4 separate regions of the Homo sapiens genome follow, and regions 1, 2 and 3 are each linked to region 4. A link means that fine-mapping ties the variant in region 4 to the plasma level of a protein whose gene starts in the linked region. Region 4 holds a variant in brackets. A gene starts in each other region. All regions are shown on their reverse strands.

Evidence for each region. PIP is the posterior inclusion probability: the model's chance that the variant is causal. Protein levels are from antibody-based Olink assays in UK Biobank. Linkage for the fine-mapping came from a reference panel and not from the study's own genotypes, which makes the PIPs less certain.
Region 1: ATG4A starts here. The variant in region 4 is fine-mapped to the plasma level of the ATG4A protein (UK Biobank, PIP 0.97).
Region 2: KEL starts here. The variant in region 4 is fine-mapped to the plasma level of the KEL protein (UK Biobank, PIP above 0.99).
Region 3: it holds the start of HEPACAM2, and the variant in region 4 is fine-mapped to the plasma level of the HEPACAM2 protein (UK Biobank, PIP above 0.99).

What each region holds. Positions count from the first base shown.
Region 1 is chrX:108,088,495-108,096,599 of GRCh38, reverse strand. ATG4A (autophagy related 4A cysteine peptidase) reads right to left here and starts at 4,822. Exons shown (of 13, transcript NM_052936.5): 1 at 4,764-4,822. The coding sequence starts at 4,773. It overlaps PSMD10 (proteasome 26S subunit, non-ATPase 10), which reads left to right and starts at 5,058. Exons shown (of 5, transcript NM_002814.4): 1 at 5,058-5,193; 2 at 7,750-7,848. The coding sequence starts at 5,080. RefSeq lists enhancers at 4,620-4,859, 4,910-5,309.
Region 2 is chr7:142,959,502-142,967,596 of GRCh38, reverse strand. It overlaps KEL (Kell metallo-endopeptidase (Kell blood group)), which reads left to right and starts at 5,234. Exons shown (of 19, transcript NM_000420.3): 1 at 5,234-5,393; 2 at 5,725-5,802; 3 at 6,096-6,237; 4 at 6,493-6,669. The coding sequence starts at 5,391. RefSeq lists a cis regulatory region at 2,751-3,152 and a silencer at 5,275-5,470.
Region 3 is chr7:93,219,395-93,227,499 of GRCh38, reverse strand. It overlaps HEPACAM2 (HEPACAM family member 2), which reads left to right and starts at 1,031. Exons shown (of 10, transcript NM_001039372.4): 1 at 1,031-1,132; 2 at 8,049-8,105. The coding sequence starts at 1,054.
Region 4 is chr19:4,497,643-4,505,736 of GRCh38, reverse strand. It overlaps HDGFL2 (HDGF like 2), which reads right to left. Exons shown (of 16, transcript NM_001001520.3): 11 at 7,706-7,779; 12 at 7,361-7,431; 13 at 6,822-6,923; 14 at 6,033-6,246; 15 at 4,420-4,546; 16 at 3,530-3,826. The coding sequence ends at 3,727. PLIN4 (perilipin 4) reads left to right here. Exons shown (of 8, transcript NM_001367868.2): 7 at 790-876; 8 at 952-3,545. The coding sequence ends at 1,278. Among named protein-coding and RNA genes, the nearest start is that of PLIN4, 17 kb to the left of the region's middle. The variant A/G (reference allele first, on the strand shown) is at 3,548.

The sequences.
Region 1 (8,105 bases), not on the chromosome of region 4:
AAGGCACTTGGAATTGTTTTTCCAGCTTTTCTACCAATCAGATCCAAGTACTTGATGCATTTTTATGGTGAAAGGTCACTATACCCAATACTTTGTGAATACCACAACACAGGGATACTGTACCTCCATAATCAACTAGAGAAGTATTTATTGAATATGCAGGGCACTTCTGCTCTATACCAACTATGACTGGCAGGCTAAATTCAGCCCATCTCATGTTTTTGTGTGGCAAGCAAGGTACGAATGATTCTCATAATTTTAAATGGTTGGAAGAACCACCTTCAAACACTGTTAGGGAACACTGAATGGCTTTGGAAATTAACTTTTGATGCAGGCTGGATAATGTTTATTAATTAATTCAACCTAAAATTACAAGGCAAAACAATGCTTATATATGAAAAAAACTGTAGTAAAGTCATTTTGACAATATTATTTGAATCACAAGTAATGTCAAGATGCTTTATCCACTTCCCATGCTGTCACAAGTCAAAACAATAAAACCACAATTAAATACCACTTTATACCCACTAGAATGCCTATAATCAAAAAGATAGATATTAATAAGTATTGGTAAAGATATGGAGAAATTTGGCTGGATGTGGTGGCTCACGCCTATAATCCCAGCATTTTGGAAGGCCAAGGTGAGCAGATCACTTGAGGACAGGAGTTCCAGACCAGCCTGGCCAACACGGCAAAACCCCGTCTCTACTAAAAATACAAAAATTAGCCGGCACGGAGGTACATGCCTGTAATCCCAGCTACTCAGGAGGCTGAGGCACAAGAATCACTAGAACCTGGGAGGCAGAGGTTGCAGTGGGCTGAGATCATGCCACTGCACTTCAGCCTGGGCGACAGAGTGAGACTTTGTCTCCAAAAAAAAAAAAAAAAGAAAGAAAAGAAAATAAGAAAAAAAATGTGGATAAATCTGAACCCTCGAACATTGCTGATGGGAAGGTAAAATGGTACGGCCACTCTTGTAAAGAGTCTGAAAGTTTCTCAAAAACTTAAACAGAGTTACGATATGACCCAGCAATTCCACTCCTAGTTAAGTACCCAGAAGAAATAAATGAAATCTCAGCTGGACATGGTGGCTCACACCTGTAATCCCAGCATTTTCTGAGACCTAGGTGGGAGGATCACTTGAACCCAGGAGTTCGAGATCAGCCTGGGCAACATAGTGAGACCCTGTATCTATAAAAAATCATAAATTGGCTGAGTGTGTTGGTGCATGCCTGTAGTTCCAGCTGCTCCAGAGGCTGAGATGACAGGATTGCTTGTGCTAGGGAGGTGGAGGCTGCAGTGAGCCGTGATCGTGCCACTGCACTCCAGCCTGGGCAACAGAAGAAGACCCTGTCTCAATAAAAAATAAAATAGGCTGGGCACAGTGGCTCATGCCTGTAATCCCAGCACTTTGGGAGGATCACCTGAGGTCAGGAGTTAGAGACCAGCCTGGCCAATATGGCGAAACCCTGTCTCTACTAAAAATACAAAACTTAGCCAGGCGTGGTGGCATGCGCCTCAGGAGGCTGAGGCAGGAGAATCGCTTGAGCCTGGGAGGCAAAGATAGCAGTGTGCCAAGATCGTGCCACTGCATTCCAGCCTGGGTGACAGAGTGAGACTCTGTCTCAAAATAAAATGAAATAAAAGTTAAAACAAGAAGCAAGATATCTATTTCCATAAGAATTTGCAGCATATATATTTTCTGAATTCAGACTACAGTTCCAGCAGCAGTTTTTGAACCCTGAAGCAAGTGCAAAGGATATTCCATATTCCAAAATCCCTTTAACTGTGCAATTGAGCAGCTTTCACCAAACTTTCAATTGGAAGTGATTAACCTGCCACATAATGCTAAAAGGCACTATTAAGAGAAGAACAGAATTCTATTCCACGCAATGAATATGCTCAATTAAAATCATGTTTGAGGATAGTGTATGATAAGAATGTGGTACTTGACCTCTGCAGACTTTCTTCCAAACACATAATGCCAGTCTAAGCATAAAATTGAGGGGTTTTCTACAAAATACCTGACCAGTACTCCTTAAAACTATCAAGGTCACCAAAACAAGAAAAGTGTGAGAAAGTGTCACAAACCAGAAGAGGCTAAGGAGATACAATGACTAAACGTAATGTGGTATCCTGGATGGGACAGCATCTCTAGAGATAAACTAGTGAAACTTGAAAAAAAAAAGCATGGGGTATAGTTAATAGCAATATACCACTGTGGGCTTATTAGTTGTGACATAGATAGCATAGCAATGTAAGACGTTAATGATAAGAGATTCAGCAAATGGTGCTAGGACAATTTCTACATCCACATGCAAAAAGATGAATTTAGACTCTCACCTCACATCACAGAGAAAAAATGAACTCAAAATGAATCATAGACTTAAATGTAAGAGATGAAGTAATAAAGCTTTTAGAAGAAAACATTGGAGAAAATCACTGAGACCTTGCAATTAGGCAAAGACTTCTTAAGTACAACACCAAAAGAATGGTCCATGAAAGAAAAAAAAATGATAAATTGAACCTCACCCAAATTCAAAACGTTTTCACTTCAAAAGACACCATCAAAAAAAGAAAAAGGCAAGCAACAGACTGGGAGAATATATGTGCATATCATATATCTCTCAGGGACTTGATCTAGAATATATAAACCATCCTTACAACTCAACACTAAAAAAACAAATAACTCAATTTAAAAACAGACAAAAGATATAACAGACACTTCACTGAAGAAGATATATGAATGGCTAATAAGCACATGAAAATATGCTCACCGTATTATAAATTATAATTTATAAATTAAAACCACAATGAGACACCACTTCACACCCACTTAGAATGGCTATAACAAAAAACACAGTAAATAACAAATGTTGGCAAGGATGTGGAGAAACAGGAACTCTCATACATTGCTAGTGGAAGTGCAAAATGTTGCTGCCATTTTGGAAAACAGTTTTGCAGTTTCTTAAGAAGTTAAGCATAAATTTTCCCTGTGATCCAGTAACTCCACCCTTAAGTATCTATCAAAGAGAAATGAAAAAAATATGTCCGCACGAAGACTTACATACTAATCTTCTTAGCAGCACTAGTCATAGTAGCCAAAAATTGGAAACTGATGTGCCTATCTAATAGTGAGTAGACAGATAAAAATGTGTTATATCCATAAAATGGAATACTATTCAGCAATAAAAAAGTAAGGAAGTACTGATACATACTACAATATGGATGAATCTCAAAAATATTATGCTAAGTGAAAGAAATCAGACACAAAGACTGCATATTGTATGATTTCATTTATATAAAATGTCCAGAATAGGCAAATTTATAGAAACAAAAAAGTAGATTAGTGGTTGTCTGGGGCTGGGAATGGGACAGAGGATTGATTAACTATAAATAGGCATGAGGGACCTTACTGGAGGGATCAAAAAGTTCTAAAACTGATTTATGGTGATGGTTGCCCCACTTCAGTAAAGTTACCAAAAATCATTTAATTATGCACTTGAAATCAGTGAATTTTATGATATGTAAAATGTGCCTCATTTTGAGTGAGTGTTATACAGGAACTCTACTAACCTTGCAACTTTTCTATAAATCTACAACTATTCTGAAATTTTTGAAAAATTAAATAAAAATAAAAATAAAAAAGTATATGTTTATGAATTGATATCAGTATTTGGCAGTACCTATCTATGTAAAATGACATTTTCAAAGATTAAATAGGTAAAAATTTCCTAACAGATCAGCATTAACAGATGAACACTTAAAATCAATTTTGACAATAGGGAACACTAATTCTGAGCCCCAATTAAGCAAAATATTATCCCCTAAAAAGAATTCTATTCTTCTCATTGGTAGTCTTCCTGTATTACAAAAAAAGTACTCAATTACTATTATATTTTGAATTTCATCAATAAAAATTTGTTGAAATTTGTTTTCTCTTTTGTCATAAAAGTACCAACAAAATATTCTTGATTTTGCCTTTTGGCCTACAAAGCCTAAAATATTTACTATCTGGCTCTTTACAGAAAGTTTCCCAACTCCTGTTCTACACTATAACAGGATAAACATAAACATCATGAGTCTCTTTCTTGAATGTATTCTTATCGTTACCTAGTTGTGGCATAATGTCCTCTGGATATGCCCTATAAAGGATCAGTCTTGCATTGCTTCTGCTATGGCACTATTTGGGATTTCTATAAAAAGAAACACTATTAGCTTAATAGTTGTAGCAAAGCCTTGACAACATAGTTAATATCGTGATATTAAAATGCCAACACCACAGCCCGGTATCCTTAAGATGACCCTCATCAAGCTGTGATGTCACCAGGCTATGGACTCACCGAGGTCTCTTAGATATCAGGTGGCTCCCACGGCATCACACCCTGCCTTTGGCATCACCCTGGCACATCACCTCAGTACGGTGCCATATGCTATCACTGCTGTGGTAGAACCCTGTCCTGATGCCACACCGCCGAGATGTCAGAGTAATTAACCCCCACTTCTTTCCACTCCCTAGGCGGTGGCAGGGAGGGGGAGGGTAGCCACAGTCACCGGTTCGAGCTCAGTAGGTAGTACTCAGCTCCAACCCTTGTCCCTTCCGCCTGCCACTGCAGGTCAGGAACCCCGGGGGACAGGACCTTTAGGCTCTCATAACTCTTGCCCTGCCCCCGAACCTGTTTCATATGGCCGACTCAACGACCCGCCAGCGACTACCCACCCCGGCTCTTTCACACGGTTCCACTCAAAGCCGCTCCCCGTACCTGACTCCATTCTCCAGCTGTCATCCTGGGCCAATTCCACCGGCAACTTGACTACGGACGGACGGTCGCTAGGATCCCTGGGACTTGTAGTTCTGCACTGCTAGGGGCCAAGTCTGTGAGGGCAGCAAAGGCGCCTCCCTGCCCGGAACTGCTCTCAAACTGCAACTCCCAGAGGCGCCGCGCGACGGGAAAAGAAAAGGGAACGAGGAAGGCCGGTGATTGGTGAAGCTCTAACGGCTGTTTTGACTGGCGTAGCCGGAGCCGGCGACGTGAGGCGGGCGTTGCTCGCGCGACAAGTAGTTGCTGGGACAGCGAAATGGAGGGGTGTGTGTCTAACCTAATGGTCTGCAACCTGGCCTACAGCGGGAAGCTGGAAGAGTTGAAGGAGAGTATTCTGGCCGATAAATCCCTGGCTACTAGAACTGACCAGGTAAAGCAACGCTAGGTCTCTCCGCAGTCGGCGACGTCGGCGAAGCCCTACGTGGCTTTCGGGGCCCGGCCCTAGCGGAGGCCCCGTTTCTGAGAGAAGCAGAACCCCGCCCCCGCCGCCCCAAGCAGTCCCCCTGGGTCACCTCGGGACTCGCGATAGGCCTGCGGGAGCTAGCCCCACAGACCTCAGATATTTTCCCGTTGGCCCGGAGCTCCGCTCCCTGATTTTTGGATAGTTCTAGAACGTCTACCGCATTTCTCAGAAACTCCCAATCAGTGAAAAGGAAGGCTTTTTATATGGATTTATTTACCTTTACTAGTAACTGTATTCAGTAACGCATGTGAAATTGAACGCCCCTTCCGTGCCAGGCAGTTTGCTAGGAGCTGGGGATACGGTGGAGTGGAAGATGCAGACAATAAAATAAGCACAAAAACATGTCCGATTACAAATTGTGGTAAATACTCGGCAGAGAAGTTTACATGGTGCTTTCAGAACACGTTAATAGGAGGATCTGATGCTGAATATGACTGTCGTTAATTGGAAAAGTTTTTGCAAAGAAGGGAAGGTTAGTTAGACTTTGAAGCATGAGTGGGATTTCCATGGGGGAATGAGTGGACATTCTAAGCAGAGGTAGACAGAAGTTTAGAAGTGTTTCTTTCTGCCCTCCTGCTCACAGGACTCTCGTGCTTTCATCCTCAGTTTCTAGGATTCATGGTGCCTTTAGTAAGCCCACAAATATTTATAGATGGCCTTGTGTTTCGCAGACAGTGTCGTAAGCACTAGTGAGACTGTCCCATACTTACAGATCTCCATTTTGTGTCTTTTGGGAGAGAATTAGAAATCAAGAGACTGTTTTCTCTTTTCTGGAACTTTCCTTTATTACTCAACCTGAAAATGGCCTTATCTTTACCTGGTTTACTTCATTATGGTCTGGTGATATTTAAGGATTTAAATTTAAATGTAATACTTTATATTAAGATTTAATACTCCATTGGAAATTTAACCATTCTTCAGTCAAGTCAGTGGCTTAAAAAGGGAAAGGAACTATTCAGCATCAAGAGACGTAAAAAACATGAAGAAATGCAATTTATGGATCTCGTCTGGTTCCTGATTTAAACAAACCAACTGCAAAAAGACATTTGGGAGACAGTTGGGGGCAATCTGAATACAGACCGGATATTAGACATTCTAAAGGAGTTAGTGTTAATTTTAGTAAGTGTAATAATGGTCTCATAGTTATATAAGAAATACCTTTATTTTTTACATACTGAAAGAGAAGGGTGAAAAGTCATGATATTTAGGATTTGTTTTTGGAAAGCTCAGCAAGGAAAAAACTAGTTAAAGCAAATAGGGCAAGATGTTTGTTGTTAAATCTAAGCAGTAGGCCTGTGGGTTTCTATTCTATTCCCTCTATTTTTGTGTTTGAAATTTTTTTGTAATAGAGTTTAAAATACCATTTTCTATTCTGTGGGGCTAAGAAGTATAGCAGTCACTGCAAATAGGGATTCCCTTTGACAAATAATGACTACTATAGCTTTTTTAATTTTTATTTATTTTTATTTATTTATTTTTTGAAACAGAGTTTCGCTCTTGTTGCCCAGGCTGGAGTGCAGTGGTGCCGTATCACCTCACTGCAACCTCTGCCTCCCGGGTTCAAGCGATTCCCCTGCCTCAGCCTCCCAAGTAGCTGGGATTACAGGCGCCTGCCACCACGCCTGGCTAACTTTTGTATTTTTAGTAGAGACGGAGTTTCACCATGTTGCCAGGCTGGTCTAGAACTCCTGACCTCGGGTGATCTGCCCACCTCAGCCTCCCAAAGTGCTGGGATTATAGGCGTGAACCACCGCACCCGGCCATAGCTTATTATTTTTTATAAAAAGTAATTTTCTTGTTTTCTGTGTGTTGTGTTTTCTAAATTATATTTCTAATTTATTTATGATTTTAAATTCTAGATAATTTCAACTAGTTTAATGAACATTTCTTCCCCCATTAGATTCATGTGTTCCTTCTACAGCATCTAACTTGAGGTCAGTGTGGTAGTAGAGATTTCAGAGTCAGAACTTCACTGACAGTTGTGCCCCAACTTCACCATTTAGTATCCATATGACCGTCCACAAGTTGCTTACCCTGAGGAGTTTTAGTTTCCTCATCTGAAAAATGGAGATAATAAGCACTGTGTAGAATGGTAGGAATTAAATGATACTATACATGTAAAACTCCCAGCACAGTGCCTGACATAAAAGTACGTAAATAATGTAATAGTAAAACAACCAAAGATGTATTTCTGTCAAAGCATTGAAATCAGTTTCTTGCTCTACTACTTTCCTTGTCGTATTCTGCCCAGAATTACGTATGTTCATCAATGTCATTCTCCCCATGTTACTTAAACCTTCATCTGTCTTATACCAGTAAGTAATATAGTTTAAGGTTACCTACCTGAGGATCCAGTGCTCTGCATTTCGTATTTTCAAACTATAGATTTGCCAGCACCAGTATTTTTTTTCTTGCTTTTTTGCCTTCTATTTCAAGAATGTTTCTATTACTGCTTCTCTGTAGGACAGCAGAACTGCATTGCACTGGGCATGCTCAGCTGGACATACAGAAATTGTTGAATTTTTGTTGCAACTTGGAGTGCCAGTGAATGATAAAGACGATGTGAGTACTTTGATAAAGTTGAGTTGATAAATTCCCAGTTATCTTTGTACTCCAGACTGGTGTTTACTGAAGCCTGTGCATTAAGCTTATAAAGAAAATTGTAACCTTTATGACTGGAAAGTTACATCATGGCCCTTGTGATCAAGCATGAGACTCATGGTTGCATTATTTTACAATGTTATGTTTGCCACTCATACTCTGTGATTTAAGGTAAACATACAGGAGAGGCTGAGGTAGGAGGATTGCTCCAGCCTAGT
Region 2 (8,095 bases), not on the chromosome of region 4:
AAGTAGGTAAAAATTACCCAGCTACTTTAAAACTGATGTAGGACTGAAAACCAAGTTTTCCAACTCCCGGGTTCAGTGATCTGTTCATGATAGGTTGCTTCAAAGGAAAACTGTCTTTCTCCTGTGGCATATTAAACATGACTGCAAATTATTTGCAAATCCTCCCCTCAAGTGGTGGAGTTTATTTTAATCTCAGCTGGCCTTGGGACTTGAATTGACAAATAGAATATGGCAGAAGTGATATTGTATAACTCCAAGCCTAGGTCTCCAGATCCTTGCAGCATTTACTCTTGCTCTCTTAGAATCTAGTTGCCATGGGAACTAGCCCAAGCTAGCCTGCTAGAGGGGCCTCATGGAGGAGATCTGAGGCACCTTGGCCAACAGCCCCAGCCAACCAAGAACCATGTGTGTGAGACCATCCTGGACTAGGTAGCCCTGAAATGGCCTGCTATGTGAAACCAAAGATGCAAATGAGCACAGAGGATACTTCAGCTCTTCCTAATTTGCCAATCCATAGAATGGAGAGCCAATTTTTTTTAAGCCACCAAATAAGGGGTTGTTTATTATGGAGTAATAAGTAACTGGTACATTTGCTAAGAGGGAGACCACACAGCTTGTCCCATTCTTTTGTTTCTCATTGTTCCAAGTGAGACATTTAAACATAAGAATAAATGCTTGCTGGGCACGGTGGCTCATGCCTGTAATCCCAACACTTTGGGAGGCCGAGGCGGGCGGATCACCTGAGGTCAGCAGTTCGAGACCAGCCTGACCAACATGGAGAAACCCCGTCTCTACTAAAAATACAAAATTAGCCAGGTGTGATGACACATGCCTGTAATCCCAGCTACTCGGGAGGCTGAGGCAGGAGAATCGCTTGAACCTGGGAGGCGGAGGTTGTGGTAAGCCGAGATTGCACCATTGCACTCCAGCCTGGGCAACAACAGCAAAACTCTGTCTCAAAAAAAAAAAAAAAAAAAAAAAAAGAATAAATGCTTGTTCCTCTAACCATTGAGTTTTGGGTGGTTTGTAACAAAGCATTATTATGGTAGTAGTTGACTAAGACCTTGGTTTTAGCAAGAACTTATGTAAATTTTCTTGAGGAAACATATGTTGAATTGACACAACTTATTAGAGTCTCTGTATTCAGAGTACTATCTTCAAAACCTGTTGGATTAGGAAGAAAAATGTGGTGGCATGTAGAAAATACCAAAAAGAAAATAAAAAAGGACAAAGATCCTCCTTTTGAGCTGTTTCTACCCATACATAATTAAAACTCCAGACTTCTGAGCATTTTCTTCAAGTTTTTGACATATTCAAGTACCAATACAGCTATTATTTGTTTAGTATATTTTAGTTGATTTAATAAAAATACAGAGGCTATGTATTTTAGTCTTCTTAGAGTCATATATCTATAAAAGAAAAATGTATATAAAAATGAAAATATTGGACCAGGTGCAGTGGCTCATGCCTGTAATCCCAACACTTTGGGAGGCCAAGGCCAAGAGATCGAGACCATCCTAGCAAACATGGTGAAACCCCGTCTCTACTAAAAATACAAAAATTAGCTGGACATGGTGGCGTGCACCTGCAGTCCCAGCTACTCGGGAGGCTGAGGCAGGAGAACCGCTTGAACCCAGGAGGCGGAGGTTGCAGTGAGCCAAGATCACGCCACTGCACTCCAGCCTGCTGACAGGGCGAGACTCAGTCTCAAAAAAATATATATATATATTATATATATTATATGTATAATATGTATTACATATATAATATATATAATATATATATAATATAAATATATATATAATATATATAATATAAATATAAATATATATATAATATATATAATATAAATATATATTTATATATATACACACACACACACACACACACACACACACACATATTGAAAGAGGTCCATCTACTTATCACTTAAATTATTTCAAAAGCCACTTTGTGGTATACTGAACTTACAAGCTACTCTTTCCCAAAGGAGCTCCCCAATTCTCAAGTATTGCTTCCTTTGAAAGAGCAATCAGTGCACCCCAAAACCTGCCCCCCATGATCTGTTTCTCCATCATCTTCTGGGCAAAGTCCTCAACATTGCTTGTGATGTCAAGGCTTACTTCGGTTCACTCAGAACTGGGTTTATTGTTCTTTAGGGGGTAGCTTCTTAGTGGCTATCACTGCAATCGAGTGATCTTAGAAGCAAATTGCCAGTCATGTGCACACTTGAGAGTGTCACAATAGACAGATTAATGTCCTGTCCTTGATTTTGATACCACATCCACTGTAGATGGCAGCTGATTATGGATAGAACATTGTGGCAAAGGCCATGATCTTCAGATGATGAAACTGGATGTTAGAGAGTTTGAGAATACTAGTCCCCAAAACTGTCACCTCACAAGGCCAAGCAGTGAAACATAGTTTAAAAAGAAGAGTTTAGATGAAGGAAGATGTTTACTATGAAGAAACTTCCAAAAAACAGATACTTAGTGACTGAGAGGCTCAATGGTTAAGGCTTTGGTTCAATTCTCGGTTCTGCTAATTATTAATTTTGTAACTTTGAGTAAGTTCACTGTACTTTCATATCTCTCTGACCGCTCATCTATAAAATGGGGAAAATAAAAGCTGTTATTTCCCTCAGAAAGTTGCTGTGAAGACTGAAGGAAAATGTACAAGCAAAACATTTAGCACATTCCTAGCACAAAGAAGGTGCTCCGTAAAAAGTGGTTATTTTTATTATTACCAATATTTTATTTTGATACTATTATGGCATGAAACAAAACCTCCTGGAATTAAAATAAACAGACAGGACAATTGAGGGCAAGAAGGAGGCAGCATCCGAAAAGATAAATGTGGTCCATGTGCCACAGCTGTTAACACACCTCTTCTCGGGGCTTAGATCTGAGTGAAGGCTGCTGCACTCCCGTGACTGGGTATGGCTGTGCTGGTGATGACTCACCATGGAGTAGGATATGGGTGATAAGAAGAAGTCCTGCTCCTGAGACAGCTCCCAGGATGGAGGTTGCTTGGCCTTCAGGAGGAGGCTGAGTAGGAATGGTGGACCTGGCAGCTGTGCTGCCCTATCCCTGTGGCTGGCTCAGCTTCTCTGACAGGGAGAGAACCTAAGTCCAGGCTGTGGTGGCTGTCCATAGGCAAATGTCACAGAGCACACTCCATCTTCAACTTTCTCTTATCAAATCTAAGTGGTCTCCATTATCATCTTCCTAGGGAAACATCAGCTCAGGGGCTTTGATTGATAGAAAAGGAGTGAGGAAGGGAATATGTGTGAAGGAAGCTAAAAGCCCATGGGGAGAGTATTGGACTTTCTGTGGAAGGGAAGTTTGAAGAGGAGGCACCATCAGGGTGTACCCACACAGACCAAACACCTCTAGAATCCTGAGTCAGCTTTTTCCCCTCACTCTGATTCCTACTCCCCCCTTAATCAAAATTCCATTGTTCGCTGGCATCACTATTCCCCTAGTCATGCAGAAATGCAACTTGGAGCTCCTCTGTGGCTCTATCATAAACCCCTCCTCCATTCAATCCATTGCCATGACTTTATTCCATACAATTTTTCTTTCTACGCACTTCCCTCCCCTCTGCCATCCCCTTGGGCCGGGCCCTCCCTTCATCACTCCTGCAACACCAAACTAACCACTCTGTTTCTTGTCTTTTATCCAATCAGTCCAGATCCCCAATACCACACCGGCGTTTCTTAGATATTATTGTATCTTGCCACACCTTTCCTCAAAAGCCTTATTTTTCCCAATGCTTTCTTTTCTAATGTATGAAGTTCTGACTTTTCTTTATGACTTTCATGATACCCGACCAGCTGGCCCCAGGGGGCACAATGGCTTTACTCCACTTCTCCACACCCACCCTCATCCTGGCAAGTGCACCATGGCCCTAGCACAGTGCTGATGGAATCTGGAAATATCGCCAGGGGATCATTTGCAAGACTAACCTAATAAATTACATTATTTTTTTCCTGGGATGAGGAAACAAGGACAGAGTTGAAACACCTTCCCCCAGAAATGTGCTTGCCTCTCTCAGACCACAGGTAAGGGCTTAATATGATGTGAGAAAGAGGATTTCTGGCTTGGAATGCAATTCATTTCTATTAACATTTAGAAAGCATCTTGGGTGGGCAGGAATGAAAACCAGACACTGTACATGCTATGACATAGTTTTCAATCACTAAGGAGATGAAGAGGCAAGCTATCAGTGTAACAGAAAGCAGAATGAAAGAAAGAGGGGCTCAGTAAAGCCTTATTCTTTTGTAGAAGGCATGAGATCCTATGAGGTAGGCATAGGCAAGTATTACCCTCATTTTCCAGATGACAAAACTTGCTTACCTGCCTCAGAGTTTAAGTGGCTTGTTTATTGTCACAGAGCTAATAATTAGCAGATTAGGGTCTCCTAGCTGGGTGATCTTTTGAATGCATGACTTTGCCAGCAGCCAGCAGAGCTATGAAACACCGAGAGAAACAATTAAGCATGCTTGGGAACAGTGTGAATGGGCATGGAGCTGGGAGGCCTCCTGGGAAAGGTGGCATTTGACCTGGGAATTGATGAATCCCAGAAAAGCCAATCAGAGAGGTGTGAAAACAAAATTAAAATGGAGACTGGGCCTGAAAAATTCCCAGGCAAACAAAGCCAAAGACCTTAAAAATAGCCATATTCTTGCTAAAACTACAAACATAAATTAAACTTAACTTGGGTCAATTTCTGATAAATGCTTACAACAAATAAAACTTAACCCCAGCCAATGATAAGCAGCCAACTAACATATGATTATGTGACTAGGGACTTTCCAAAAAGTTACCTAAAAAATGCAATTATGTAACTGCAAACTAAGCAAATAATGTTTCATTTTGCTTCTATAACTTCCCAATAAATGCTTGCCTCTGACATTTTGTCATCGCAACACTAAACCTTTGTCGGTCTGGTGCTCCCCAATTCATGAATTGCTTCTTACTTAAATAAACTCTTTAAAATTTTACTGTGCCTCATATTTTTTTTAATACAGAAGAAATGAGAGAAGGAAGAATATTTTAGAAATAAAGGAACTTCATGGGCAGAGTCACAGTGCAAGACAAAAGGAGCAGACCAAGGGCAAGATTGCTTGGGGAGTGAAGACTCCCTCCCTCTTCTCCCCTGAGAAGCTGAGATAAAGGGGGAGGAGAAGCCTGGGTGCCCCCCACTGATAAGCAGGCTCCACCCAGAGGCCAGTCCTGTGTGTCTGGGGACAAGGCGAAAGAGCAGCAGAAGTGCCCCTTCTCCAGGATCAAGGAACTGGGGCGGGGGGTGTTTCCTGGACCCCAGTCCTCCGAATCAGCTCCTAGAGTGGAACCAGGAAGGATTCTGGAGCCACAGAAGATAGACAGATGGTAAGTCCCCTTTTGGAGTCAGAGGCTTAGCGGGGAGGGGTGAGGGTGGCTGTGTGCAAAAGTCCTGCCCCCACTGGAGGGGAGGGAATGTAAGGCTTACAGAGTAGAAAGGTGGGGAGAGAGGGAGGTAATGGGAGAGGGATCGAGAAATGGCACATTCAGGGGACAGGTTCGTTCTGAAGCCCATCTGGGAACACTGCTCCGAGATAAAAATATGTGTGTGGGGGCAGGGCAGGCAGCGAGGGTATCAAAATGGCCTGATAAAACTCTCTTCAATGCACCATTTCCTGAACCAGCTTCTCTCTCCTCCTTCTCCCTCCACTCACTTCAGGAAGGTGGGGACCAAAGTGAGGAAGAGCCGAGGGAACGCAGCCAGGCAGGTGGAATGGGAACTCTCTGGAGCCAAGAGGTAAGTGGCCTCCTCTCCTGGGTCTGGAATACACTGATGTTGTCACTCTCGGCTCTAAAATCCCACAAACACTCATCTACTAACTGTCTGCTTCATCCTCACCCAAAACAGTTGACATTCCTTGTTTTCTCATCTCCCAGGAGTTAAAGTAGGGCTGGGTTTAGGAAGAATTGGGATAATTATTTCTGTATAAAGGGACTGTAGCACCAACAGATTCATTCTCTCTCCTCTTCTTCCCATCCCTGTCTCTCAACCCCCATCTTGTATCTTTCACCTCTTGGTTCCTCCCACAGAGCACTCCAGAAGAGAGGCTGCCCGTGGAAGGGAGCAGGCCATGGGCAGTGGCCAGGCGGGTGCTGACAGCTATCCTGATTTTGGGCCTGCTCCTTTGTTTTTCTGTGCTTTTGTTCTACAACTTCCAGAACTGTGGCCCTCGTAAGCAAGATCCCAGACCCCCTAACCTAGTCAGCCCTCCCCCAGCCCTGGGGCCCAGGCCCAGTCCCTGCTCCTGGGGCTTCTGCCCACCCTGACCCTTGGGGTCCCCATGGTTCTTCTTCCTCCCTGCATCCTAACCATTTCTTTTTCATCAGCTCCCCACTTAGTTACTCACCTGATGTTCTTTGCCTAGCCCCTTGGGGGAGCCCTTGTCTTTTTGCCTCTTCTTTCCCAGCTCTGAGCTTTTCCCCACAGGCCCCTGTGAGACATCTGTGTGTTTGGATCTCCGGGATCATTACCTGGCCTCTGGGAACACAAGTGTGGCCCCCTGCACCGACTTCTTCAGCTTTGCCTGTGGAAGGGCCAAAGAGACCAATAATTCTTTTCAGGAGCTTGCCACAAAGAACAAAAACCGACTTCGGAGAATACTGGGTGAGGAAAGCAGGGTGGAAGATGCTCTGTGCAAGTGGGTGACTCTGTGCCTAAAATGACCATGACTGCTCCAAACCCTGTGTAGTTGTGGAACAACTGATTTGCACCATCCCAGGTGGGATTATACGGGTGGATGATTGGAGATGATGGGGGAGTAAAAGAGGCAGGATGGCGGGAGCTGCCTGGGTTTGCTCATCTCTCACTGTTTCCTGTTGCCTTGCCTTGGGTACCCTTCTTCCGTTTCTCTTGGTCCCTTTCTGCATTTTTTTCTTTATCTAATTTCCATCTTCTTTGCTTCTCCATGTATCCATAATTACTCCATTCTCTCCAACTTGTCCCTTTTAGCAAGCTCCATCTTTGTTGCTTCCTCCAAATGTTCAGTTTCTATCCTATGCATGGTGTTTTCCTCCACAAGCATCTCTTCAGCATCTCCTGCATTTCAATTCTTTTGTCCATCACTCTCATTCTCTAACCTCCAAAACCTCAGTCTCCCAATGACTCCTTGTCAACATTACCCTCTCCCTCTCACCATGCCGGAGCTCCCCTCTCTCACAATGATCTCTTGCTTCTTGCTTCTCCATTGAAACCTTGAACCATGGCAAGCAAGTTGACCTGGAACAAGTGGGATGTTAGAGATGGATGATTGGAGATGATGGATGATGGTGGAATGAAAGGGGTAGGATGGTGGGGTGAGAAGTGAGAGAGGGCTTCATCACTGTGCATAAGAGAAAAAGTGGGTAAGTACAAAGGATATGCTGGAAGAAGAGGAGAGCTGAGTTAATTGGCAGTGGAAGTAAAGTTCCTGCAGATGGAGGCTGGAGAGGAAAACTGCCAGGACTGAGAGGAAAACCAGAAGGATGAGCTGAAACTGAGTAGGAGGTTGGAAGTGCGTCCCAGGAAGTTGGTGGATGGTGGTGAGGATTTGGGAATAAGAACATATAAGATAGACATGCATTTCCAGTGCAAGGGAACCTAAAGAATGTGTTGACACTATCAATTAGAATCTGGGAAAAGTAAATGCACCCCTCTGCCCTCTTTTTTTGATGGGGAAAGAGTGGGAGGGGGCCTCTCTTTGGGTAAATGGATACTTTCAGGGAAGGCACAGAGATAAAAAGAAAAAATATGCTCAGGATAAATTATATTGCCTACAATGGGATGAATAGATATCAGGGGGACTGAGGGTGAAAAGAGTGTTAGATATTAGAGGGTGGATGATTCAGAGAGACTTGCATTTGATTATTGTAGTGTGTTTGTTTCCTGGGATCAATGGATGAGGAGTCTGGACTAGAAGAGTCTTCCCCTGTTTCTTCTCTTTGCTAAACCTTTCCTTATGAGTTTTCTTCTCTCCAAATCCTTAAAGTTCTCTAGTTCCCTGAATTTGTCTAATTTCTTCAATCATTTCTTTTGTCTTTCATTTCTCTCTTTT
Region 3 (8,105 bases), not on the chromosome of region 4:
TTTACTTTAATTATGCTTGAGGTATAGTCTTCCTTCCCCTCTTATCATTGAACTTCTTCAGTGGGCCTTTACTGTTAAAACTGATGCATGCAAGGAATTTTCCTTGATTTGATGATTTGATGCAGATTTGGATATATCCTTAACATTTTATATAACAAGGCTAGAACCAGAGCCTTCTTGCAAATAGGGGTTAACTAATAACTTAGTAAATTAAGCGGACATGCTTAGACTATCTGCTGCCATGACAATGGAGAGACCAGGTTGAAAACCTGTAACCTGGACACTGCAGTAGAGGTAAGATCTTTTCTAGATCATTGGTTCACTTCCTCTATGCATCAGCTGTGAAAATGTGGCCTCAGATACTATCTCCTGGCATGCACTTTTCATTATAATTATGCATGGTCCATGCCTCAGTCCCAGTTGGAAACACACCTGTGATTTGCTTTTAAAAATAAGATGAATTCAAAGATTAAATGAAATCAGTCATTGTAATAGGAAACACTGCATAGAAAAAATACGTTTTAAATATATTCTGGATCTCTCTTTTGATTCATTGGTAGAATTTTTACATGTTAGTGACTTCATGAAGATTTATAACTGTTTAGCAGATACATGAGCTACTTCAATTTTCATATAATTTTTTTTAATTTTAAAATAATAATGGCATAGTTCTGCATGATAGAAAACCAGCTTTTGTTTTTAAGGAAATCTCACAATATTCTTTCATTATGAAAACATGCCATTTTTCAGTAAAGTCACGCAAAAGGATGTTTTCCTTCATGTGATTTTTTAATAACTAAGTATAATTTATGAAATATATAGACAATTACTGGTAGTTGCTAAGAAACTCTTCTGAAAGCCATAAGCCTGTATTCTTGCTAAGCACATAACAGGTGTTCCCACTCCCTGTGTCCTTTGTATACACATTCATTCTGTATTCAAATCACAGAAGCAAGAGGCAAGATAGGGTCTGTTACCTCACTGCTAATTTCCCTAGCAAATAAACCAGCAGCTGCTGGTCCAAGTTACCACTGAGAACAGGGCACTGCATGCATGGGACAGGATGCTTTCATGGAGCCCTTCGGTGACACACTTGGGGTCTTTCAGTGCAAAATATACCTCCTTCTCTTCGGTAAGGCCCTGTGTGAATTGTGTTTTAGCTGTTTGTTAGGTTTTTTTTTTTTAATTGTGGACATAAGGTAAATATTTGCTTTAGGCTGTAGATGCATTCAGATAATTGAAGAGCAGGTCAGAACCTTTTAACAATAACACACTGTTACAGCAAAGAAGCAGGAACATTTAAGAGAAATGAGTTTCAATAAATAGATTGTTATTGTTTTCTTGGAACAACAATTATTGTCATAGCACTCATTAAGATAATTCAGATATTTTTAAAAGATAATGAATTTCTTCTTTTAGAGTTTACATATAGGTTCAATAGTCTTTAATGCATTTATTTCAGCAAATATTCTAATAGGCCATGAAATTGTGACCACTTAGAGTGAAACTACAAATAATTTACGAAAATTGTTTTCTTTTTAATTAAAGATATTGTTGCAAACTGTTTACTGCTTCGTTTTAAGTTATCTGTCTCATCTTATGAAATATGGAAGAAAGGTAAGATTCCAAACTAACAAAAAAATTTCCTACACAAAAGGGAGAACGTATTTGAAAAGATTGTTACTCCAAAATGCCTTTAGCTTTTCTCTTTGCCCAATGGCTAGTCCTATTAAGAATTTTTTTCTACCTTAATATTTTCCCTCATTCTCCTCTTTATCTTTTGAGTTTAAAGGAGTCTCTTTCCAGCATTCCAACTGCTGTCTGTCAACATTATTTTCACCAGATGTTCTCATTTCCATTCTTCCTATTTATCAGTTTTAAAAGTCAAATCAATTTCTTGTTTTGTTTATATTCAACAGATAGGAGTTCAATTAAGGCTACATTTTTTAAAAATTAAGAACAGCTTAGCAAAATAAGCAATTTAACTTTTAGGCTTCTTCAGCTATTTAGAGCTTTACTTTCACTCCTATATTTTGTTAAAGTTTGCATTGTAAATGTTATTATTCAAATTCATACCTACTGTTGTACCTATCTCACACATTTGAAATGTACAGTTTGTAAATTTTTTTAAGTCTTTGAGTTTCCCAGAGTTGTGATTGTTCCAGTTATCACAGTATTTATGTTATCAAATTTAAGCCTATAATAGATTTTTGTTTTCTAAAATTTTTTGAAAAAGTAAATAATTATTATAACTGTCACTACCTTTGTGCATTTGTCTTCCTTTTGAAAGTATCCTGGGTCATCATCCCACTTATTTTTATATTTAAAACAGTAGGACTACTATCATTTTATAAGTGTTGTTTTTGAAACTGGCGTTAAGAAGAACTTAGAGACAATTTAGTTAAGGAATTCAACTAAAATAAAACAAATGTACATTAGGAAAATAGCATGTTCATAAATAGCTAAAGCAGTTTTTATACCTTAAGACCTTCTCTCTTCTGCAAATTTGCTTTTCTCCATAGGCAGTGTGTTGTAAAGACCACAGATGACTTGGCAATCTTTGCTTTTAGGAATATTGAAGTTTTGTTTGCTTCTTCTTTTTAAAAAATTTTTAAAAATTTGAAGCCTAAAATGTACAGTTTGTACAGTTTATTCAAAACACATCATAATTTCTATTTTCTCTAAAGATGCAAGATTTTATTTTCAGTCAACAATACTTGTGTTATGCTTGTTAATACCACACATGATAACAGGGAAGTAAATGCCAGCTATTTTGAGCTACAGCAGAGGTCACTTTGTGAAATCTGATGTTTATATTCAATACAATGAAACCGGTCTAGGGAGTCCTTTGTTGCTGGAATATAGATAAATTCTACAGTAGGACTTCAAGTGTACCTTAACACTGGATACTTTTTTATAGTGCTATTGTCATACAATGTAAGAGGGTCTGTAAAGGAGGGATCATTGCTGCAATTTTGTATGTCAGATTATGATTAGTATTATAAATGTTTCTCCAGATTTGTGTAATGCCTTATATGCAAAAAGTCAAGATTTTTTTAACAGAACTATAATTTATAAGAGTTTTTGTTTGTTATACTCAGAAAGTAATAGTGAATATAATAATAAAATCGAATTTAAATTTCCGTTTAAGTCCAAATATTTGGACTACTAAAAATAAATTTAAATTTCATCAATTTTTATATTATTTATTATTTTTGTTTTTGTATTTTTTCAAATAGAGACAGAGGTCTCGCTGTGTTGCCCAAGCTGGTCTTAAACTCCTGGGCTCAAGCAATCTGCCACCTCAGTCCCCTAAAGTGCCTGGGATTACAGGCATTAGCCACCACAACCAACCTTTTTATATTATTTATTTTCTTGAAGTTTATCTGTTCATGCAGAGGATGATTTTCTAAAATCAATAGGTTTAGTCCTTTGGGTTTTCTCATACAACTAGAAAAGAGCACTTGAAAATTTCTCAAAATGAAGCTAAGTTTTCTCACATTAGTAAACTACTGTGTTTGACAGCATGAATTCATCACATCTGTAGTGGGTGACACATCAATGATAAGAGAGTATGTGTTCCTAGAATGTGGAGGAAGCATTCAATTATCTGTTTATTCCCAAATTTCACTACAAGCAAAGATTGTATCATATTGATAGGTTCATGTCCAATGAAGAGATTTTACGTGGCTGAGATAAGATACTGTATAAAGAAAATTTCATTCCCTGCTGACATTCTTATAACTTGCTACCTATAATTTATCTGATAAAAAATTGTATAGGCAATCTCTAAGCAAATAGTTACTGTAACAGCTGTGCTATTTCTCACTGTCACACAAACATTTGAAAAAGCATACATATTTGAAAAAAACTTTTCATTTAATAAGAAAGCACTGAACCTATTCAGAGATATTGATGGCAATATATTATTTAAGGTATTATTACATGATGCAGTCTAAAATAGACCCCAAAACTAATTTTCCCCTAAATAATGATCACAAACGCTATATTAAATATCTTTTTCTACTAATGTAGTGTTATTTTTTCTCAGAGCTTCAATATTTGTATTGTATTTAATATTTCATTAAATAAAATTTTCCTCCTATAATTTTAGTCATGGACTCTCTAACCAGTCTTTTCATATTTAAGATTCAACATTCTGGGTCAAGATCCAAAAGTCATCAACATTTCTATTCCAGCAATATTGTCACCCCATAGTAATATAGTGCCTCCCAACCATTTCCAGAATATTAAATAAATCTCAATCTTTTCAAATATAACTACAAAGGAAGTCAATTACAAAAAAAGCAGAGAAGGACTTTTGCAATGGCTTTCCCAAATGACAAGCACAAAATGGGTCAGAATCCATTCAGACCTTCTCAGCCTAATGGTGGTTTCTAGGCTGAGTTGTGAAATGTCCTAAGTGAACCAACACATCCATGACAAAGCTGCTCCCTATTAGCAGCCATGCAGCTTTTTCCAGTGCATTCCCAAGGCAATTATACAGACTTCCATCATTCCCCTTGATTTCTTTGTAAAAAACACAGAATTGCTGTTTTATTAAAGGATATCCAAGGATTGACAACTTAATATATGAACCAAAAACTGGGACTCAATTCTTCAAAATTATTTAGGCCCTCTCTCAATTTGGGTCCTCTCAAAACTCTCTGGGCCCTTCACCTTCAAATATAGGTAGCTGCTACCCTTAGAAAAGCACCTCAGGTTGTCAATAACATAAAATTAAGAGAGTCGAGAAAGGCCTTACACCTTATCTGATATTACCTCCTATTCACACATGAGAAAACTGAGTCTGAAAATTAAAATGACTTATTTAAGGTCACATAACTGACCAATCACCATTTTACCCCAAGTATGTGTCCTTTACTAGGACTTCATATTTCAGTAGATCTTTAACTTTATTAAAGTAACAAGCACAGTAATCTTCAAGTTAAGAGAATAGGTGCTTGAAAATCATTATTTTAGAGCTATTTGCAAGTGATAAATTTAAGACTCAATGGCGGACATAGAACATGGGAGTCCAAGATCAGGAGTGAGCCATGAAACACTTGTAAATATTTTCATATTTACACAAGTAAAAAAAAAGGAGGGAGCAATACACTTAATACAGTGAAAGGTCCAATTTACATATCTTAAGTTAGTAATAACAGGTACTAAGCCTATTTTTTTTTGTTGTCGCTTACCAGGAACTTGTCAGGAACTGCCTATCTTCAACTTCAATGAAAGACATATAAATGCATTTTGTTTTGTACAGAAAACAGATAGACAAAGAGGAATCTTTTCCTGTGCTGATCTCCCATCCAAAGGCCCAATGTCTTACTAAACCTATGACTTTAAGAGTTTCACCCCGACTGTCAGCCTCTGCTTCACATATCTTAGACATCACTAATTTTGAGACATAGATTTCTCTCTCCCATCTTTCTTTCTCTCTCCTACTATTTCCTTGCGAAAACCACTACTTCTTTTCTGCAGTCCACTTTATCTCCTCTTTAGAATTCCCAGCACCCAGTTTTCTCTTTTTCTAATCACTCAAATTAGGAAAAATTCCAGATTTAATAGTCTTACACTTGGCAGAAAAGAATACAGAAGGGAATTCTCATCTTTGTAACTGCTTTGTTATGGACCAATCACCAAAGTGTGCAAGTAGGTCCATTATCAGAAGAAAAAAAAATTCTTAGAAGTTAATCACAAAAACACACAGAGGCCAATGAGACAATAAGACATGTCTTTATGTTTCTTTTACAGTCATCTGCTTTTCAGTCCATATGGTAAGTTTCAGTTGCAAGTCTAGGAGTCTCTTCTCCCTCTAACTAACTATCTTCCTCTTTGGTGTTTTCTCCTCTTGGATTCTTTCCTCTAACTTCTCTGCCAACCCCAGAGTCTCACTCTCTACTAATAGCTAGCCAAAGGCCCAAACTGTGGGAATCTTTGCTTCTACCTCCACTCTGGGAAGGAAGGAGATAAATTTACTGTTGGTAGAACTGGATTCCTCATAGGAACAGGCCTACATCTTTGAGTTTTTCCAAGGAAATAATCACAAAAGGCAAACAGATCTTTCTACCTTTCCCTTTTTAAAATTGATGGCCTTTCATGACATGACTTGGATGAAGCTTGAGGACTCCCTTTCTAGTAGAATGAAATCAAAAAAATGTAGAAAAAAATGAAAAAGTGGAAGCGATCAAAGAGGATGAACATTTTGTACTTGAGAAATTTAAAATTGTAAAATGCTTCTATTTATATCTAATTTCCATCTCTTCTCACCTGCTTAAGGATTTTATTCCACTTTCACCCATCTCTATTCTGCCTCATCAACATTTCCCTTTCCAGTGAAACATTCCCAATAGCAAAAAACTCTCTTTATTTCACATTTTTGATCCTTCTCCAGCTTCTGTCCCATCTCTCTGGTCCTCTTCACAGCAAAACTTCCCTAAAGTGTTGTCTATACTCATTGTCTACAGTTTCTTTTCATTGTCTATTTTTTCTCTCATCATTCAAAATATTCCACATTTAAATTTCTCTCACTCTCTCCTCTATTACGTCAAATGTTCCTATGATGTAGGTATCATATTGCCCCTTTTAATATGAGGATTTTGAAGCAAAGAGCTTCCAGCAACATGGTAACCTGAGCTAAGGAAGACTCTCTTCCCCCTGCAAATACATAGAAATGCTAAATAAAATAAAATAATATATCATGGCTTAAGGTAAGACGGGGAAATCTCCAGTTGCCAGAAACTGGGAAGAAACATGAAGATACAGCAGTGAATGCATGGGTCCACAAATCCCCAGCACTGCCCAGGGCTATCCACTGGGCAGAGCTCCATGCCCCAAGGCCCTCTCAGGCCCCTCATTCTCTCTTAAATTCACATTAATCAGGATTTCACAACATTGCCTCTTAGATGTCTAATGGGCATCTCAAAATGAACGCTCCCAAAACTGAATCCTCGTCTTCCCCACAAAAACTATTCTCCCCACAGTCTTCCCCATGATTAATTTATTTACTGCAATTCCTTTCTTCCAGTTGGTCCGAGTCAAGAAGCTTGGCATCCTCTTTGTTTCTGACACCCTCAAAGTGTCACCAAATCCTTTTGTCACAATCAGCCTTTTTCCAAAACGTCTTTTACTAACACCCTAGTTTCCAGCACAGTTGTCTCTGGCCTATTACATTGCAGTCACCTCCTAACTAAGTGTTCTCCCTGTTCCTGCTCTAGCCCTATTCCTGTGTATTCTCACAGCAGCTAGACTAGGTCTAATAAAACATTTAAAAAAATAGCCCTTTTCTGTTCATGAAACTCCTATTGCATCCCCATCTTAGAGTAAAATTGCCAGAGTTTTTCCCGTGATCCTAAGGTCCTGCCAGTCTGTCACAGCCACCTCACTGACCTCATATCTTATCATGCTCCTCCTCCTCCACTGTGCTCCATCTGTACCTGCCTCTTGCTGTTTCTCAAATACACCAACCAGATGCCTGTTCTGGGTGGAAATAACTGGTCATGACTGATAATGGTTTAATACCACTCTCCTTGGGATATTTGCATTTGGCAAGCATTTGGCTAAAAGGAAGAACTTCCAATAATGGAATATTCAGTCATTTCAGACAGCTTTAAGGGAAACTGTTGGGAGGAAATAACCTCTAGTATTTCTCAAATCACATAGTTAGATTATGATATGATATGACAGACATTAATATAGTCATAATTCCAAATGTTTTAATGGTTTCATTGGACTTTAGAAGTAGTAAACTTTCTTAGTTCTCCTTTTCCCATTATTCCGTAGCAATCGTAGAAAATAACTTCTGCTTTTCCTTTTTATCTTGTGCAACCAGCACGGTCTTTGGGTGGAGTTTTTTAAGTGCAGAAGGTTTCAGGGACAAATATTTACCTCTATATGTAACCAGTACTAGAATAGTCAGTACCTAGAAGCCACTCTTCTTTGAAAAGGATTATCACCTGATCAGGTTCTCTCTGCATTTGCCCCTTTAGATTGTGAAATGTGGCTCAAGGTCTTCACAACTTTCCTTTCCTTTGCAACAGGTGCTTGCTCGGGGCTGAAGGTGACAGTGCCATCACACACTGTCCATGGCGTCAGAG
Region 4 (8,094 bases):
ACAGCAGTCTGGAGTCGATATTTTGACGGCGTGCCGCATCCCTACCAGCCATTGAGATGATGAGGAAGATGGGGCCCTGTGGACAGGGTGGGGCGTGGGTGCCACGTGCTGGGGACACAGCAACAACGAGGACAGAGTCCTGAGTGTTCCCCTGCCAGGGGCGGATAAACACCAAGTCAATGAACACCAAAGCCGCACGCTGTGCTCCCGAGGAGAGGGGCAGATGTGACGGGAGGGACTGGGGCTGCCACACCATGGGCCAGGAAGGTCTCACCAAGGGTCACCTGGAGCTGAGGCCGAACGCGGACCTTGTGAAGGGCCCGGGAAGCAGGCTCCCGGCTGAGTGGGCAGTGTGTGCAAAGGCCCTGGGGCAGAAGCCTGCTGGAGTGGCCGGAGGGCAGAATGGAGCCAGTGTGGCCTCAGTGGAGACAGCAGTGGGGTGCCATGGGAGATGAGGCCAGAGGTGTCCCAGGGGCCAGCCCACCAAGGCCATGGTGAGGAGCTGGGTTTTATCTTAAGGGTACTGGGCAGCCACAGGTTTAGGGGTGAGGAGTGACACGACCCCACAGACACTGTGTTACGTGCACTCCCTGATGACCTCATGGGGAAGTTTGAACTATTGCCTCTTTCTGCAAGACAACACGCCCACTGTGGTACAACTGACTTGGAACTCGTGGCCTTTCTCCCAGGACTGTGAATGTGCCCAGGTCCCTGGGGGAGGGGGAGGTGGGGGTTGTGAAAGGTCATTTGCCAAGAAGCCATCATTTCCCCACTGTACTCTCTCTCCAGATTGAAAAGGCCCAGCAGGCTCCAGAAGGGCAGCCACGTCTGGACCAGGGCTCAGGTGCCAGTGCGGAGGACGCTGCTGTCCAGGAGGTGGGTCTGGCACAGGGCTAGGGTCCCCCCACCCCGCCCATGGGTCTCCACTCACCTTGCGCCTTCCTCCCACAGGAGCGGGATGCCGGGGTTCTGTCCAGGGTCTGCGGCCTTCTCCGGCAGCTGCACACGGCCTACAGTGGCCTGGTCTCCAGCCTCCAGGGCCTGCCCGCCGAGCTCCAGCAGCCAGTGGGGCGGGCGCGGCACAGCCTCTGTGAGCTCTATGGCATCGTGGCCTCAGCTGGCTCTGTAGAGGAGCTGCCCGCAGAGCGGCTGGTGCAGAGCCGCGAGGGTGTGCACCAGGCTTGGCAGGGGTTAGAGCAGCTGCTGGAGGGCCTACAGCACAATCCCCCGCTCAGCTGGCTGGTAGGGCCCTTCGCCTTGCCCGCTGGCGGGCAGTAGCTGTAGGAGCCTGCAGGCCCGGCGCGGGGTCGCCCTGCTCTGTCCAGGGAGGAGCTGCCTCAGAACTTTCTCCCCGCCCCCAAACCTGGATCGGTTCCCTAAAGCCCTAGACCTTTGGGGCTGCAGCTGGCTGAGCGCCGAGGGGCTGCGGAGGCAGTGACCTTCTTAACTGAGCCACCCCACGCCCTGCTCCGGGCCTGCCTGCATCTCCCACCTCCTCCCCAGCGCTGCCTGCCCCTCTCGGAGCCTGGGGTCACTCAGACCACCAGCCAAGAGCCTTCCCTTGAAGTCCCCAAGCAAGCACTGCAATTAGGAAAGAGAAAAAGCAGCGTGCCCAGCCTGGAAGGGCATCTGTTTGCCCCGCTAGCAACCCTTTTATATCTAGCAGGGCTCTTCCAGTCCTGCAGCACGGGCCCCCAGCTATCAGCGGTGCAGGCAGTGCTGTGGCATCCCAGGCTCCGGGCAGCTCCGTTCTCATGCTGAAAGTGGGTCTCCGGCCTTAGCACACACACCTTGAGGGTCTTAAGAACCACATTCCCTCATAGTAGAAAGTACTAGAAAAAGCGACACTGCCATCATCATCCCAAGGCAGGCTGCTACTGCCTTTGCTGACCCCCGGGGTGGCCTCACGGTGGGGACAAAGCTGCCAGGAGCCACAGCAGCCACAGCTGGGGCTTTGCACCAGCCTGGCTTGAGACTGAGCAGTTTGCAGGGGGTGGGGGGTGCAAAAAACAAGCAAACAGGCTGCTGCTGCCTCCAGCTGCCCACCACAGGCCTGCCCCAGGCACCTGGGGCTCTGAGGCCCCTGGGGAGGCTGGGCCCAGCAGCTGCCCCTGGAGAACACAGACAAAGGACTTCCCCGCAGGGAACTGTGCCCTATGGAGGGATCAGACAGGGCTGGGAACAGCCACAGAGGCTGCGTGCCTATGGCACAGCCCTTCCTCCGCCGCACACTCCCCCTGGGTCCTCAGGCCCACCCAAGCGCCGGGCTGCAGAGGAAGCGGGGCTGGGGAGGCTGCAGGCATCAGAGACACTGGTGGTGGCGGACCCGGCCGCCGGGCCCCGTGCTCTCAGGCTAGCCCAGGTCGTGGAGGCTGGCAGGCTCAGGTCGGGTGTGAGACGTGCCGTGGCTGCGCTCAGTCCAGCGGGGAGGAGCCGTTCAGCCCGGCCTCCCCAGGAAGCCATATCCCCACTCACCCGGTAAGAGAACCTTGTCGTCCCCTTTCCATGCTCTCCTAGGACACGAGCCCAGGAACCCCAGACCCAGGGGGAGGAAGGGTGGAGGGGCCCCAGGGGTCACCGTGTGCACCAGGGGCCGTGAGGGGCCGGGGCATTCAGCTCAGCTCTGAACCGGGGAAGCTGGCACGGCAAGGACTGCCTCAGGTGACGGGCCGTGAGAGGGGACGGGTCAGGAGCCTTCCCAAGCCTTCTCCTCAGCCCGACACCCATGGCCATCGGAGGCTAGGATGCCAGACACAGCCATTTGCAGAAATCAGGCACAGTGACTGCAGCTCACGTCCAGCCAACCAAGCATGGGGCCGCAGCTCAGGAAGTCCCTTCCCGCCACACCACAGCCTAATTCTTACTGGGACGGAGGCAACTCGGCTACGCTGGGCAGGACGACAAACACGAGACGCCACTGTGGAATGAGCAACTTCGGAGCACGGGGTGACTTGCTTGGGACCGTGCCCACGTGACAGCCCCTTATGCAGAGGAGGAAAGAGAAGCCCCGAGTGGGAGGGGAACCTGTCCAAAGTCACACGGTGTGTGGGTGACACAGCTGGGGTGAGTCGAGGCTGGCCCCTGAGGCCCATGCTCCCTGAACGCTGGAGACCACTGTCGGCTAGCAGCGGCTCTCAGGGAAGGCCTGGTCTCCACCCTCCCAGCCTAGCCTCGCGGACCCTCGTCCTCCCCACATCGGACCTGCTCACCTGCCTGGACCCTGGGCTGCCAGATGCAGGAAGCATCAAACCCCCCAGCCTCGTGGGTGCGGGGCAGGGCGCAGGCAGCACAGCTTAGATGCCCTGGTTTGTCCCTCTTGTCTCCTGGGAAGAGCTTGCTCCCGCCCAGCTCTCCTGCCACTGGCCTTTCAGGGTTGGGCTGGGCCCAGAGTGCCTTTTAGTCGCTTCTCACGGTGGCCTGATGGCTCAACCCAGTCCCAAACGGGCCCAGTGACACTGCCGCCTGCGCCCCAGCTCAGGCCCCCACTGCACCAGCAATGCTAGAAAACCAAGCCAATAAAAGTGATTTCTTTTTTCATTAAAAAACC[A/G]TTTATAGTCATTTCATGTTGGTTGGAAATCACAGAAATTAGGCAGGAAAAAAAAACCCAAGGGAACAAATACAAACAGCACAGCGTTCCCCACAGTTCTCTGCTCTGCTCTCCTGCGAGCCGGGGAAGGAGAGGGGCAGCCTGAGCTCGGGCGGGGGCTGGGCCTGGCTGCCCGCGGCTCAGCTCTCCTCGTCCAGGGCCTCCGAGTCCCCCCGTGCCCTCTCGCGCTCCTGCCGGTCGCTCCCAGGCCTGTCCAGGTCGGGACCCTCCCGTACGCTGCTGGTGGGAACAGCAAAGGCGGTGTGAGGATGCCCTCCCGCCCCTGCCCTGCCTGTAGGGCGGTTGGGTGGGATGGGCACCGAGGAGTGTACCCCCGTTGTGGCACCTGAGGCTCGAGTGCCGCCCTCCTATCTGCCTGTCTTCTGCCACTAGAGACCACAACCATCTCCAGGGTCCCCACGCTGGCGCCAGCCAGGCATAGCACAAGGCAGCTGCTGGGTAAGTGAGTGACTCCACTGAGCCTTGTACCAGACAGCAGCCCACAGTGATGGGCACAGGCACCGTCAGATAGCCGGGTGCCCGTGCTCGGGGCCTACCTACCTGGGCCACCCTGGAGGCTCGGCAAGAAGCCACCTTCCCAGGAGGCCAGGGGCAGGCAGCTCAAAGCCCTGGAGCTGCCTCTCTGTAGGGGCCGCCGGAAGTGCCAGCCAGCGGGGCCCTGGGGTCAGCTGTGAAGGTGGGAGGCCCGAGTAAGGACGACATCCCTGGGACCCATCCCAGAGGGACTGGCACAGGAGGAGCGGCTCGGACCCAGGGTGCGCGTCACACCGCTGCCGCTCAGGAGTCCAAACCCCACGGCCCGGGACACTCACTCGTGCAGGTCTTCAGAGGAGCCACACCTTGGCCCCTCCTCCGAGTCCCGACCCTCCTCGTGCTCCTTGTCCTCTGCGCTCTCCCCCTTCTGTGATGTGGCCTCGCCATTCACTGGGGCTGAGAGATCTGGGTGGGACAGAGGGGTCACAGGACACTGCTGGGCTCCAGCTGGGCACCCCAGAACCCTTGCCTGTCAAGGACTGGACCAGGGGCCAAGCTGAGCGCCGTGGGTGACACATGCCCATCCACCTGGACCCCAGCACCTGCTGTCCAGTCTGCAAGCTCCTGACATGGGATGCTGCAGCCAGCCCCAGCCCGAGCCACACTGGCCTGCAGAACTGGGGGCCCAAGAAATGAGGGAACGTGGGCAGCCCTGAGAAAAGCCCACAGCAGCCTGGGAAAGACAAAGGAAGACAAGGTCGGGCACGGGGGCTCACAATCCCAGCACGTGGGAGGCCGAGACGTGAGGCTCACTTGAGCCCAGGAGTTCAAGACCAGCCTGAGTAACATGCCAGCAACCCTGTCTCTACAAAAAATACAAAAATTAGCACGTCCTGGCAGGGCGCAGTGGCTCACGCCTGTAATCCCAGCACTTTGGGAGGCCGAGGAGGGCGGATCATGAGGTCCAGAGATTGACACCATCCTGGATAACACGGTGAAACCCCATCTCTACTAAAAAATACAAAATATTAGCCTGGTGTGGTGTTGGGTGCCTGTAGTCCCAGCTCCTCGGGAGGCTGAGGCAGGAGAATGGCGTGAACCCAGGAGGCGGAGCTTGCAGTGAGCCAAGATCACGCTACTGCACTCCAGCCTGGGGGACAGAGCAAGACTCCGTCTCAAAAAAAAAAAAAAAAAAAAAAAAAATTAGCAGGGCATAGTGGTGTAGGCCTACAATCCCAGCTCCTCAGGAGGCTGAGGTGGAGGATGGCTTGCGCCCAGGAAGTCAAGGTTGCAGTGAGCTGTGATTGTACCACTGCACTCCAGCCTGGGGGACAGAGCGAGACCCCATCTCAGAAAAAAAAGAAAAAAGAAAAAAAAGACACTAGCCTTCGGCTGCCCCCTGGGCCGCAAAGCCCCATCCCAAGCTCGCCCATCCCATCTCCAAAGGGCTGCTCTGAGCACCTGTAATGGGGCCATGTCAGCCCAGTAGCCCCACAGCCAGCAGCCCCGAGGGTCACACCTCATCTCCTGTCGGCCCACCAGGCAAGCAAGGGCACCTGAGGCCTCCGCCCCCGAGCCTCCACCGACTGCCTCTCTGAACAATGCCCCCACTCTTTGCCCCCGCTGCACAGAGCCACCCCCCTCTCTGGGCGTCCCAGGGTGGGAGACGGTGGAGGCGTGTGCTGTCATGCACTGTCCCCGTCACCCCTCTGGCGTGAGCCCCAAGTTACCTGCATGCTGGCTGCCTGGCACACGGTAGGACCTGAATGCCCCTCACTGGCTGCCCCAGGGATTAAAGCCGGGTCTGCACGGAGACCCCAACAGGACATGACACTCTGGCAGGTTTGGGGCAGAGAGTAGAGCTGTACTCCCCTTCTGGAATGTTCTGCAAAGCATCTGTTTCTTCAGCTGAGGAGACTGAGGTACAGGGCCCACCCCACCCGCCCCTCACCGGTGCTGGGCTTGTCCTCCGCCTTCTCCTGGGGGGCCTCCTCCCCGGCCAGCTCCTCCCCGGCCAGCTTCTCCTCGGCCTTCTCCTTCTCCATCCCAGCCTTGTTCACTTTCTGCACCGCCTCGATCTTTGGGCCGAGGACCCGCGACTTGAGCCGGGTATAGACTTCTGCTGCCTTCTCCATTACGTCCTTGTTCGCTTTGTAACGGCGAATCTGGCCACCAAGAGAAGAGGCCTGGCTCACCCAAGTGCAGCGGCCCTAGCCCCGGCTCTGAACCCCTCGCCCCAGCAATGCGCCCCTCCCGCAGCCCCTCCCGGGAGCACAGCTCTGTGCAGCAGGCATTTCTTTTTTTTTTTTTGAGACAGAGTCTCGCCCTGTCACCCAGGCTAGAGTGCAGTGGCGCGATCTCGGCTCACTGCAACCTCCGCCTCCCAGCTTCAAGCGATTCTCCTGCCTCAGCCTCCTGAGTAGCTGGGATTACAGGCGTGCGCCACCACACCTGGCTAATTTTTGTATCTTTAGTAGAGATGGGGTTTCACCATGTTGGTCAGGATGGTCTTGATCTCCTGACCTCGTGATCCGCCTGCCTCAGCCTCCCAAAGTGCTGGGATTACAGGCGTGAGCCACCACTCCTGGCAAGCACCAGGCATTTCTACCCAGCAGCCCACGGCCTCCTCGCTGACCCAGGGCTGTCCCGACAGGAACCTGCTGGGGGCCTGGGCTCCCGGGCAGGCACTTGCTCCCAGCTCCCCCGACTGCACCCTGCGCCTCTGATTCCCCCGCCATACCTTCTTCAAGGTGGCCACCACGTCTGTGTTCTTCTGGAGGATCTGAGAGGTCACCTGCAGGGTTCCCAGCTCCTCTAGGGCATTCAGGCACCTCTTCACGTCCTGCAGGGTGGGGTGGGAGTGAGGGAGACGGCCTGGCCAAGGGATCCCCAGGGGTCCCAGGGCCCCGATGGGTGGAGGAAGACATCCTGGGCTCTCCTTGAGGGGAGCTGTATCTGCAGAACAGCTCCCCTCAGCCCCCGTCCAGTTGACGGGGAACTCCAGGGATAGCCAGATACTTGGGGTCCCAGGTACGTGGGGGTTGGTCCTGGGGGCCTCCACACACCACCTGCCGGGAAAGCTGGGTGCTGCATGTCAGGACCAGCTCCCCCAGGGCCCTTGGCCAGGAGACCCCATGCGCTCACTAGCAACCGGAACAGACTCCTGGCCCACCCAACTGCAGGACCCCGGCTTTGCCTCAGTTTCCCGAGACATCTAAGGGAGCCTGGCAGGGAGGTGGCAGCGGGGACTGCTTGGCTCACAGGCCCTGAGGGTCTTACCGGGCTGTCGACCTTTAGGGCAAACTTGATCTCACTGTGCAGCTTCTGCAGCTTCTCCTCCACGGAGGGCTCTGGGCCAGGAGAGAGAGCACCGTGTGGGCCCAGGCAGGGCCACAGGGGGCCAGCTGTTCAAGGGCAGGAGCCTGAGAGCCTCTGGAGGATTTGTCATGGGGGCCCCAGGTCTGCAGGCTCAGCCCCCACCCCTGGAGGCACCGCCGGCCAGGCCGGCCGAGGATGTGCTGAGCACCCTCTCTAGGGACAGGCGGGACAGGCCAGCCACGCCACGGCTGTCCCCGTTCCCCTCAGTGAACTCAGTGTGGGCAGTGCTGGGCAGCCAGGCCTCACCTTTCTTCTTCTCTACCTTCCTGTCCATCGAGAAGCCCTCGGACCGCTTCCGGGTCCGCTCCACCTTCACGGGCCTGTGGAGAAGTGCTCCCCTCAGTCGGGCCCCGTCACCGGCACTCTGCCACTGAGGGGCTGGCGCCTGAAGGGGTGGACCCAAACCCACTGCAAAGGAAACCTTTGGGAGGCCCTGGGAGCTAAGCCGGGAAACGGGAGGCGGGGAGGCCCTGCCACAGCCTAGGCCTAGGGCAGACCAGGGCAGCCACAGGCTCGAGCTGCCCAAAGATACAAGCCTTTTCCCGAGTTCTCATGAAATCCCAGGATTCTTTTCCTCGTTCACATGGCCAAGGGCTGGCTTTGTCTACCAGAGTCAGCGAGCTAGGAAAAGGCCC